Regions from separate parts of the Homo sapiens genome. Here region 1 is linked to region 2. The links come from fine-mapping of genetic effects on gene expression. A gene starts in region 2. The other region holds a variant in brackets. All regions are shown on one strand. Distances are from middle to middle.

The links. PIP is the estimated chance that this variant, and not a neighbour inherited with it, causes the effect. A credible set is the group of variants that fine-mapping cannot tell apart.
Region 1: its variant is the best candidate, but not a certain one, in a credible set for the expression of CERK in lymphoblastoid cells (GTEx, PIP 0.81).

Annotation. Positions count from the first base shown.
Region 1 is chr22:46,659,208-46,663,582 of GRCh38, reverse strand. GRAMD4 (GRAM domain containing 4) reads right to left here. Exons shown (of 19, transcript NM_015124.5): 5 at 2,141-2,202; 6 at 411-543. Among named protein-coding and RNA genes, the nearest start is that of GRAMD4, 41 kb to the right of the region's middle. RefSeq lists an enhancer at 1,142-1,725. The variant G/A (reference allele first, on the strand shown) is at 2,289.
Region 2 is chr22:46,736,343-46,740,717 of GRCh38, reverse strand. It overlaps CERK (ceramide kinase), which reads left to right and starts at 2,466. Exons shown (of 13, transcript NM_022766.6): 1 at 2,466-2,711. The coding sequence starts at 2,570. It overlaps LOC105373077 (a long non-coding RNA gene), which reads left to right and starts at 4,326. Exons shown (of 2, transcript XR_001755593.2): 1 at 4,326-4,375. RefSeq lists enhancers at 1,624-1,953, 1,327-1,985, 3,224-3,393, 4,081-4,375 and a silencer at 2,114-3,073.

The sequences.
Region 1 (4,375 bases), 77 kb after region 2:
TGTCCCCAGAACAGAAGTCCTCAAGGGCAGGGCCTTTGCTGACCTAGCTCCCTCGGGACCCCCAGGGCCTATGGCAGCACCTGGCAGGGGAACCAAGGTTTACTGATGGGACTCAAGAGCCAAGGAAGGCCCCAGGCAGTGGGCTGAGCCCCATGAGTCCCCACACAACTGTCACAAGCCACAGCTGAGAGCAGTGCGCGCATGCAGCTCTGCTGCACCTAAGCGGGCCTCGCAAGCCCCTGCCAGGCACGGCCCCCAGAAGACCAGACACAGCGGAGCCTCCAGGAGCTCTCGGCAGCCTCACAGACAGCTTTGGCCCACGGTGATAAAGGATGGCCCACCCGCTGCAGCCTCAGCCCAGGGACCGGGGCCCCTAACGCACAGGCAGCCCCAGCTCGGCGAACCCCTACCTGCGGGCGCTCAGGGGTTCCTCTGTCTCCACAGTGTTCTCCTCGGGCTGGAACCGGAAGTCCTCCACGTACTCCCCAAACCGCTCGTAGAACCACTTCTGCAGGCGCGAGGACAGCCCCTGGCTCCGGCGCTCTGCAGGGGGCAGGGACCCGGTGAGGGCACGGCAGGGCTGCACTGCCTGTTCTGGGGTCGGCTCCGGGATCTCAGGGCAGGGAGGGGCCTCACTGCAAGGGCGCGGCCAGCAGAGGCACAAGGAATGCTCGGGGGTAGGTCAGGGAAATGAAGGGTCCCTGTACAAGGGACTTTGAAGGGCTCAGTCCTCTGAAGACACCAAGTGCAAACCAACCGGCACACAGCAGAGCTGCCCCAGCCATGACGACCTCAGTGCCGGGTCTCTCTGCTTTTCATCCCTGTCCCCAGCTCTCTGCCCGCCCTGGGCTCTCGTCAGCGGGCAGCCTGTCCATCCAGGCTGCTCGGCCCACCTCAGACGTCTGCATCAAACCCCCTTTCTACCTCCGGGTTGTCAGAAAGCAGATGGAGAGGTCACTGCCCCAGCCCTGCATATCCTGAGCATCAGCCAATGGATGGCGCAGCGGGAGGCTGTGTCCTGGGCTGGGGGTGCCTGGCGAGCGCAGCCAGCCCAGGGTGAGCGCACGGTGTTGTCGTGCTGATGACCAGCAATGTTTACCAAAAGCGAACACCTCTGGAAAGCAGCCTCCACGGCGGGAAACCGGAAGAATCCCTCGGAAGGGGGGCTCAGGGGTGCAAGCCAGTCCCTCCCTTCAGAAGGCCAGTGAGGAGCCGCCTGCAGCGGGTGCTGCCTCGCCAAAGTTTTGGGCCCTGGGACCAGAGGGCCTGTGGTCACCATACCCAGGGGGCTGCAGGCTCAGGGCAGAGGCTCAAGAGCCACAGGCCAAGGGGGCTGAGGTCTGTGTACCCCAAGGCCACCCGGGCAGGGAGGATGGGGCCAGGGCAGGCTCCTGCGGCTTCTTCCCGCCCCCAAGGCAGCCTGGCAGAGTTTTTAAGGGGAGGGTCCAGGTGAGATCGGCACACTCGTCCCAGCCGTAAGTGAACCGGCCCGGCTGTGTTCCCATGGACTTTATTTATGGACTGAAATTTCAGGTTTATATTACGTTCTCATGTCATGAAATGAAACCATTTAAATCTGTGAAGCCAGGCGGGGGCTGGAGTTTGCTGACCCCCAGGTACAGGGAACTATGCCGGCTGCCTGCAGGGCGTGGGGCAAGATAAAGAACAGGCACTCAGGGATGGAGGACGAGGAGAGAGATAAAAGGGCACATGAACCCCCAACTCCCCACTCACAGCCAACCATAGCCCCACTGCCCACTTGGTCCCCTTCGGGGAGGCACCAGGGCAGCGGCAGTGACCAGCGTGGCTCTCACATCACTGTTCCGTGGGGCAAGGCTGAAACAGAGTACGTGTGTATTCCCCAAAGAACACACAATCACGCTTTAGTTGAGTGACTGGAAATTTGTGATGACGACTATGATGACTCACCACTTCGCATCAGAGACACTAACCCAGTTCTGACGGGAGGAGATTCCCGGATGCCAGCAGGTGCCTGGGCACAGAACCAGCACCTGCCGCCTGCCCACCTGCTGGGGGAGGGGGTATCTGCTCCATTGTTAACCTGGGCCTACAGAACCAGCAGGTGACGCGCAGCCACCCACCCGCCCGCCTGCCTGTCCACCCGCCCACCAGGGTGTACCTGCTCCATTGCTGGCCTGGGCCTGCCCTTTTGGGGGCTGCTGAGCCATCTGCTCCTCGGTTCTTAAAAAGCAGGGAGAGAAGAGACAAGAGGTCTGTTAGTTCCAAACTCCATGCCCAGTCAGGCACCCCCGAGGGCTCTCGCGACC[G/A]TGTACTGCACAGGAGAGGTCAGGGACAGCAGGGCTCTCTCCAGAGTCTCCACTGCTGAAATGCTGGTTCCGAGCGTATCCAGGCAAGCACAGAGCTGCCTTCCTAACAGGCACACGTTTTGTTTTTAAACAACCAGCATCTTTCACCACTCTTTCCTTTCCTATTCATTTTAGCACACTTGCTTCTTTCAACATCATTAAACTCAGAATACTCTCATATCACCAACCCGTCTGCTAATGAAAAGATACTGATCAACACACATGTGTTTATCAGGCACCAAGCCAGGCCACAGGCTGGGTGCCACCTGTCAGCAGCCTGTACCCAGCTCCCAGCTCAGCCTACTCCAGCGACCTGCCTGGACTGGGCAGGGGCACTAGACGGCCACTAGGGTCTGCTTCCGTCCCACACCCAGCCCCTCCAGCCAAGGCCTGTGAGCAGGTGCAGCACAGAACCGGGCCAAGTGCTGTGTGGTCGCCCCTAACCTTCCTAACTCTTGGGAAGCGGGAGTGGGGAGGGAGGAAGCTGGGGGAGGAGTAAACCCTGAGAAGAGAACAGAGGGCGGAGCACAGGGCACACAGGGCACGGCCAGGTAAGCAGCGGGCAGGAAGCAGACAGTGAGGTTTTCAGGGGACTTTGGATCCACAATGGAGAGAATCTCTGCCTACTGACAAGTAGCCTTAAACCAAGGTGACTTTCTGAGAATTTTCTTAAAAACCAAAATAGAGGTTTGCATAAACAGAACTGCTGTGCTTTAATCCTGCAGCTTCAGAGTGTGTGGTATGTGTGTGTGCAGTGTGTGCGCACATGTGTCTGCATGTTTGTGTGTGCCCTCACACACCTACCCACCCTGGACAGACCACAGCCACCCAGACCCACCCCAGATCTGCACCAGGACGACAAGGAAAGAGGAGGTCACTCTGCCTGGGACTGCTCTTCCTTCACCCCTCCTCCTTCAGGCTTCCAGAAGGTTCCTAAGCGCCGCCCCCATGTAAAGCAGGGGAGAGCCCTTAATGCTCCCAGGACCTTCAGCTTCCACTTCCTGGGTCACAGCCTGGATGTTCCTTCACTGCCCATTCCCCACCCATTCCCAAGGCAGAGACTGTGCGAGATGGGGCTCCCTGCGTTCTTACAGCTGACCCGGGCTGGGCACACCTGCCACCAAGGGGCTTTGGTAAAAGATGAGGACCAGATCCTGGAGTGGGGCTGGCGGGAGTGAGAGGATGGGAAACAGAACACAGGGAGCAGGGCCACGGGGACAGCCTCAGGCCACCTTAGCCACCGGGGGAGAAGCAGCGTCCCGTGGCGGGGATGGCACTGTGGCCAAATGCCTGGGGACCGCACCTGTCCCTGGGATCTCCCAGCGTGGCAGGTCAGGTCTCTGTTGCAACTCTACATAATTAAATGTAATTTAAGCTTTGAGCTTCTGTGGATTTTCCCAGAAGGTTCAGCATCAGGTAAAGCGCCTGCCGAGGCCCATGCACCCATTTCTGGTCTGGGAGGTTCTGCCAGGGCGGAATAGGAAAGTGAGGCCTCTCCCTCCCCCACACCAGCTGGATGCCCCCACATGAGCCCCCACATGAGCCCCCCAGGGCACTCCACAAGGTCATGCTGACCTGCAGGAGGCGGGCAAGGAAGAAGTGGGAGTCAGCCCAGCGGATCCCCCGTCTTCCCACACACTAAACCTGAGGGTGCTGAAGGGAGCCGCTTCCTCAGGGCCAGCTAAGCAGCGACACTTGGAGTCCTGACAATGACACACGGCCCCCGGAGCGCTCATAGCAGGCAGTGCTCAGCTGGGGTGTCCCAGAGATGCCGTGTGCCTCCCTAACTGGTGACAGCCATCCATGCAGGTCATGGGGGCCACAGACAAAGGTGTGGCCAATGGTGGTGGGAGGCTGAGGTGGGAGACCTGGAGGGAGGCTAAGTGGAGGCTGGAGGGAGGCTGAGTGGAACCTGAGTGGGGAGGCTGAGGGAGTGGAGTCTGAGGACGGAGGCTGAAGATGATGCTGGGGGGAGGCTGGGCAGAAACTGAGGGTGGAGACTGAGGGGGGAGGCTGAGGGAGTGGAGGCTGAGAGGGAGGCCGAAGCA
Region 2 (4,375 bases):
CACACAGCAGGGACCTGACGGCTGCTCTGGGGTGGAGCTGCTCTTTCCTCCCATCCCTCCAGTGCTGTGCCCAGAGTCATGGCCCTGGCCCCACACAGGGCCTGACCCCCACCCAACCCCTCTCCCATGCAACTCAACTGCAGGATGTGCATCTTCTGGAAACCTGGGCTTCGTGACATCACCCTGTCTCCCTGAGCATGAGCATGGGGCCCTGCAGTGGCCAGGCCCCTCCCCAGCCCATCCTAGGACTACAGGTCCCCTGGGTCTGCTCAGGCTGCCATAACAAAATATCACGGACTGGATGGCTTCAACAACAGCAATCTGTCGTCTCCCATGAACAGTTGGCAGAGGCTGGAAGTCTGAGGTCAAGGTTCAAGCCCACAGGGTTGGCCTCCTGGAGGTCACTCTCTTTTGTTGCCCCTTCCCATGGCCACCCCTGTGTACACACGCCTCGGGGGTCTGTGTGTGTTCACGTTTCCTCTTCTTTTTTTTTTGAGATGGAGTTTCGCTCTCGTCACCCAGGCTGGAGTGCAATGGCGCAATCTCAGCTCACCTGGGTTCAAGCAATTCTCCTGCCTCAGCTTCCGGAGTAGCTGGGATTCAGGAGCGCACCACTGCACCCAGCTAATTTTTGTATTTTTAGTAGAGACAGGGTTTCACCATGTTGACCAGGATGGTCTCCAATGCCTGACTTCAGGTGATCCACCCGCTTCAGCCTCCCAAAGTGCTGGGATTACAGGTGTGAGCCACAGAGCCCGGTCAACATTTCCTCTTCTTGTAAGGACGCGCTGGATGAGGGCCCACCCTAACAGCCTCATTGAATCTCCTGTGTGTTTTGTAACTGATGTTGCTGTCTCCCCCAACGGAGCTCCTTCGGGGCCTAAGCACTTCTGAGTCGTCTCTGGGCCCCCACCTCTGGCTGCAGGATTTTAAGCCAAGGCGTGCAGCCGGGGGACAGCAACGTGAATACGCCGGGAGGGGCACGGGGAGCCTAAGCACAGGGAGGCCCAGGGAAGGGGTCCCCAGTAGGGACGCTGGTGCTCTCGGGCCCCTGCCCATGCCACCCTTGCCTGCCAACCCTCTTCGCATGCAGCGGCACCCTCCTGCCACTGGCATGAGCTTTTCTTTCCAAGTAAGTTTCAGATCCACATTTCCCAGGCCTCAGAGCGGCAGCTGAGGGAGGGAGGAGGCTGGGCAGGCCTCGCTGCTGCACACCCCACTGTGTGCCACGATCAGGTACTGCCTGCTAGGACTCTGACTGGGCCCACGGTGGCTGCAGGACTGTCCTGGGGCCTTCACTGCATGGCCTGAACAGGGGCTGGGCTCCCAGGGAGGAATGATTCATGGCTGGTTCCCGCCCTATAGACAAGACAGTCACAAGGAGCTGGCAGGGTAAGACCTGTATATGCTGCCACCTGGTGCCAGGCACAGCAGCAAGGCCACGTGGACCTAGCCCACCTCACCTCTGCCTGCAGCAGCAGGGCTGGGTAGGGGAGCCGAGGGGAGGGGCAGGCCTCAGACCTCAGTGTCACATCCAGGCAGTGTCAGTGTGAGCCTAGGCTCTGCCACACTGGAGCCCTGTGCTCTTGGGCAAGTGACTTAACCTCTGTGAGCACAGTCTTCACTGATAAATCAGGGAGGGATGTGCCCTCCGAACCAGGTTGTGGCTGCTTCCTATGGGGCTGTGTTAAGCACTGCGGACGCAGAGACTGGAGCTTGCATGAAGGCGCACGGCGTGCTCTGAAGGCAGGGCTGGAGTCCCTGCAGGCTGGTGATTCCTTCAGCTGTGGGGTCAAGGAGGCCTTCCTGGGGAGGCGGTGAATTGGGGCCACAGGGGCCGTGTCTCTCCAAGTCTGGGGCCCAGGCTCCGGTTCCTAGGGCCAGCTCGGGGGCGGCTGCTCAGCTGTCTGCTCTGTGGCTTCAGGCCCCAGAGCAGTTCAAAGGGCCAGCGCCCCCGCCCCCTAAAAAGACCTCCGCCTCCTGAAAGCCTTACCTGCCTGTCGGGGCCCAGCTGCAGGCCCCCTCCCAGGCCGACAGGACGCCAGGATCGTAGAGGGCACCCGCCGCCCAAGGTCACGTCGCCCGTGGCGCCCCCATCCAGGCCCGCCCCCCGCCGCGCCCGATCGCCAGGACTGCGTTTCCACGCCGCCCGGACCCCGCCTGAACCGAGGCCCGCGCGGAAGGCGCCACTGAGTCCCGGCCGGCCGCGGGAGCGCCAGATTCAGCACCCGGCACCCGCCGGAGAAGAGAGGAGAGAAAGGCAGCCGCCTCCCGGCCCCAGCGCCCTGGCCTCGGCCAGCCCCATCCCGGCCCCTTCCTCCTCCCTCTTCTCCCCTTCTCGGGTCCCCCCGTCTCTCCCTGGCTCCCGGCCCCTCCTCTACCCACGCCTCCTCCTCGCCCCCGCCCCGCCCGTCCCCTCCGCGGTCCCCGCCGCCCGCGTACGGGGTGACGCAGCGCCGCCTCCCGCCGCCCGCCGCCCGCCGCCCGGGCCACTGCAGGGGCCGCTAACGGTCCGGCGCCCCTCGGCGTCCGCGCGCCCCCAGCCTGGCGGACGAGCCCGGCGGCGGAGATGGGGGCGACGGGGGCGGCGGAGCCGCTGCAATCCGTGCTGTGGGTGAAGCAGCAGCGCTGCGCCGTGAGCCTGGAGCCCGCGCGGGCTCTGCTGCGCTGGTGGCGGAGCCCGGGGCCCGGAGCCGGCGCCCCCGGCGCGGGTGAGTGTCGCCGCCGCCCGGGTTCGGCCGGACCTGGCCAGGGAGCGGGGGCGGCTTGGGGGACCCGGCTGGGGGGACCGGGTGCAGGGAGCGAGCGGCTGTGGTAAGGCCGGGGGCCCTGGGAGCGCAGGCGCCAGGGAGGGGTCGGGGCAGGCGGGAGGGAGGCCGGGGCCAGGGGCCGGGCTGTGCGCCGCCGTCTGCTCCGGGAACCCGAGGACAAAGCGCCGCGCAGTGGAGGGGAGGCCGGCGCCCCATCCCCGCGGGGAGGTGGGACCCGGGGCGCGGGGTCGTGGCCCCCGGTGCGGTCTGTCCGCAGGGCACCTCTGGACAAGACGGACTGTGGATGGATCCCGAGGGGGGGTGCCAGGCGCTCCCCACCGCGCGCATTGCAGTTTACTCCAAGAACAGATGCTTTTCTTTAGCAGGGATCCGAAACCTGAGAGGCGCCCTTGCAGGGTGAGGACTTCCTGTTAAGAAGTTAAAGAAGGGGCCCCTGACTTTCTGTGGGGTGTGCTCCCTGCTCGGGATGGGGGAATTGGTTTCCGTGCCACGGGTTGGCTACTTGCCCCGCAGAGGCCCTCCGGATGAGGAGAAGAGTGACTTTGGTAAACATGGAGGACGCATAGCCCACCCTGGAGAGAGCCCTGCAGGAGGACAGAGGGTTTGTTTTTGTTTTTTGTTGTTTTTTGTTTGTTTTTTGTTTTTTTTTTTTTTTGAGTCGGAGTGTTGCTCTGTTGCCCAGGCTGGAGTTCAATGCCACGATCTTGGCTCACTGCACCTCCGCCTCCTGGGTTCAAGCAATTCTCCCTGCCTCAGCCTCGGAGTAGCTGGGATTACAGGAGCCCGCTACTACGCCCGGCTAATTTTTGTATTTTAGTAGAGACAGGGTTTCACCATGTTGGCCAGGCTGGTCTTGAATTCCTGACCTCAGGTGATCTGCCCACCTCAGCCTCTCAAAGTGCTGGGATTACAGGTGTGAGCAACCGCACCCAGCCTTTTTTCTTTTTAATTATTGGGGTGGGTGTGGCAGAGGCCAGGATTCATGCTGGATGTGCGGAGCTGGAATGGGGTGGGTGTGGCGGAGGCCAAGATTCTCTGGTGGATATTCGGAGCCTGGGATGACACCTTTAGACCCTGTGGGCAGTCGAGGTCAGGAGTTCTTCTGGGCGCTTTCTGGTGCTGAGTGGTGAGGATCTGTGGGTTGGGTTCTGGTGGGGACAGAGTTGAACGTTAGGTGGGGCCAAGGTCGAGGGGTGGTCTCAGACCCATGACCAACACTTGGTTTCCAGCCCTGGGGTCACCTATCTGTGGCTGGGCATCTGAGACTTGACTTTCCTAAGGTATTTCTCATGTCCCCTTTGGTAGAAATGTCACACCCCAAATATCACCCACCAGGGCCCACACACAAGGAGAACAGGTGCCTGACCTGGGCCCGAAGGGTTTGTACTTTGTTGTAAATCCCTAGGCTTCAGGAAGATGACTGCCTCCCCCAAGCACTTCCTAAGTGCGGGCCACTGGGCTTCAAACCGGATGGGTTCCTGAGAGGCAGCTGCTCCCGTCCTAGGGATGCAGGGGCCGATCTGCAGGGGCTGGAAGTGACTGGCCCAATTAGCTGCTGTGCTTGTAGCCACTGGGCTGTAAGGCTTCCCTCAGGCTCCAGCCGC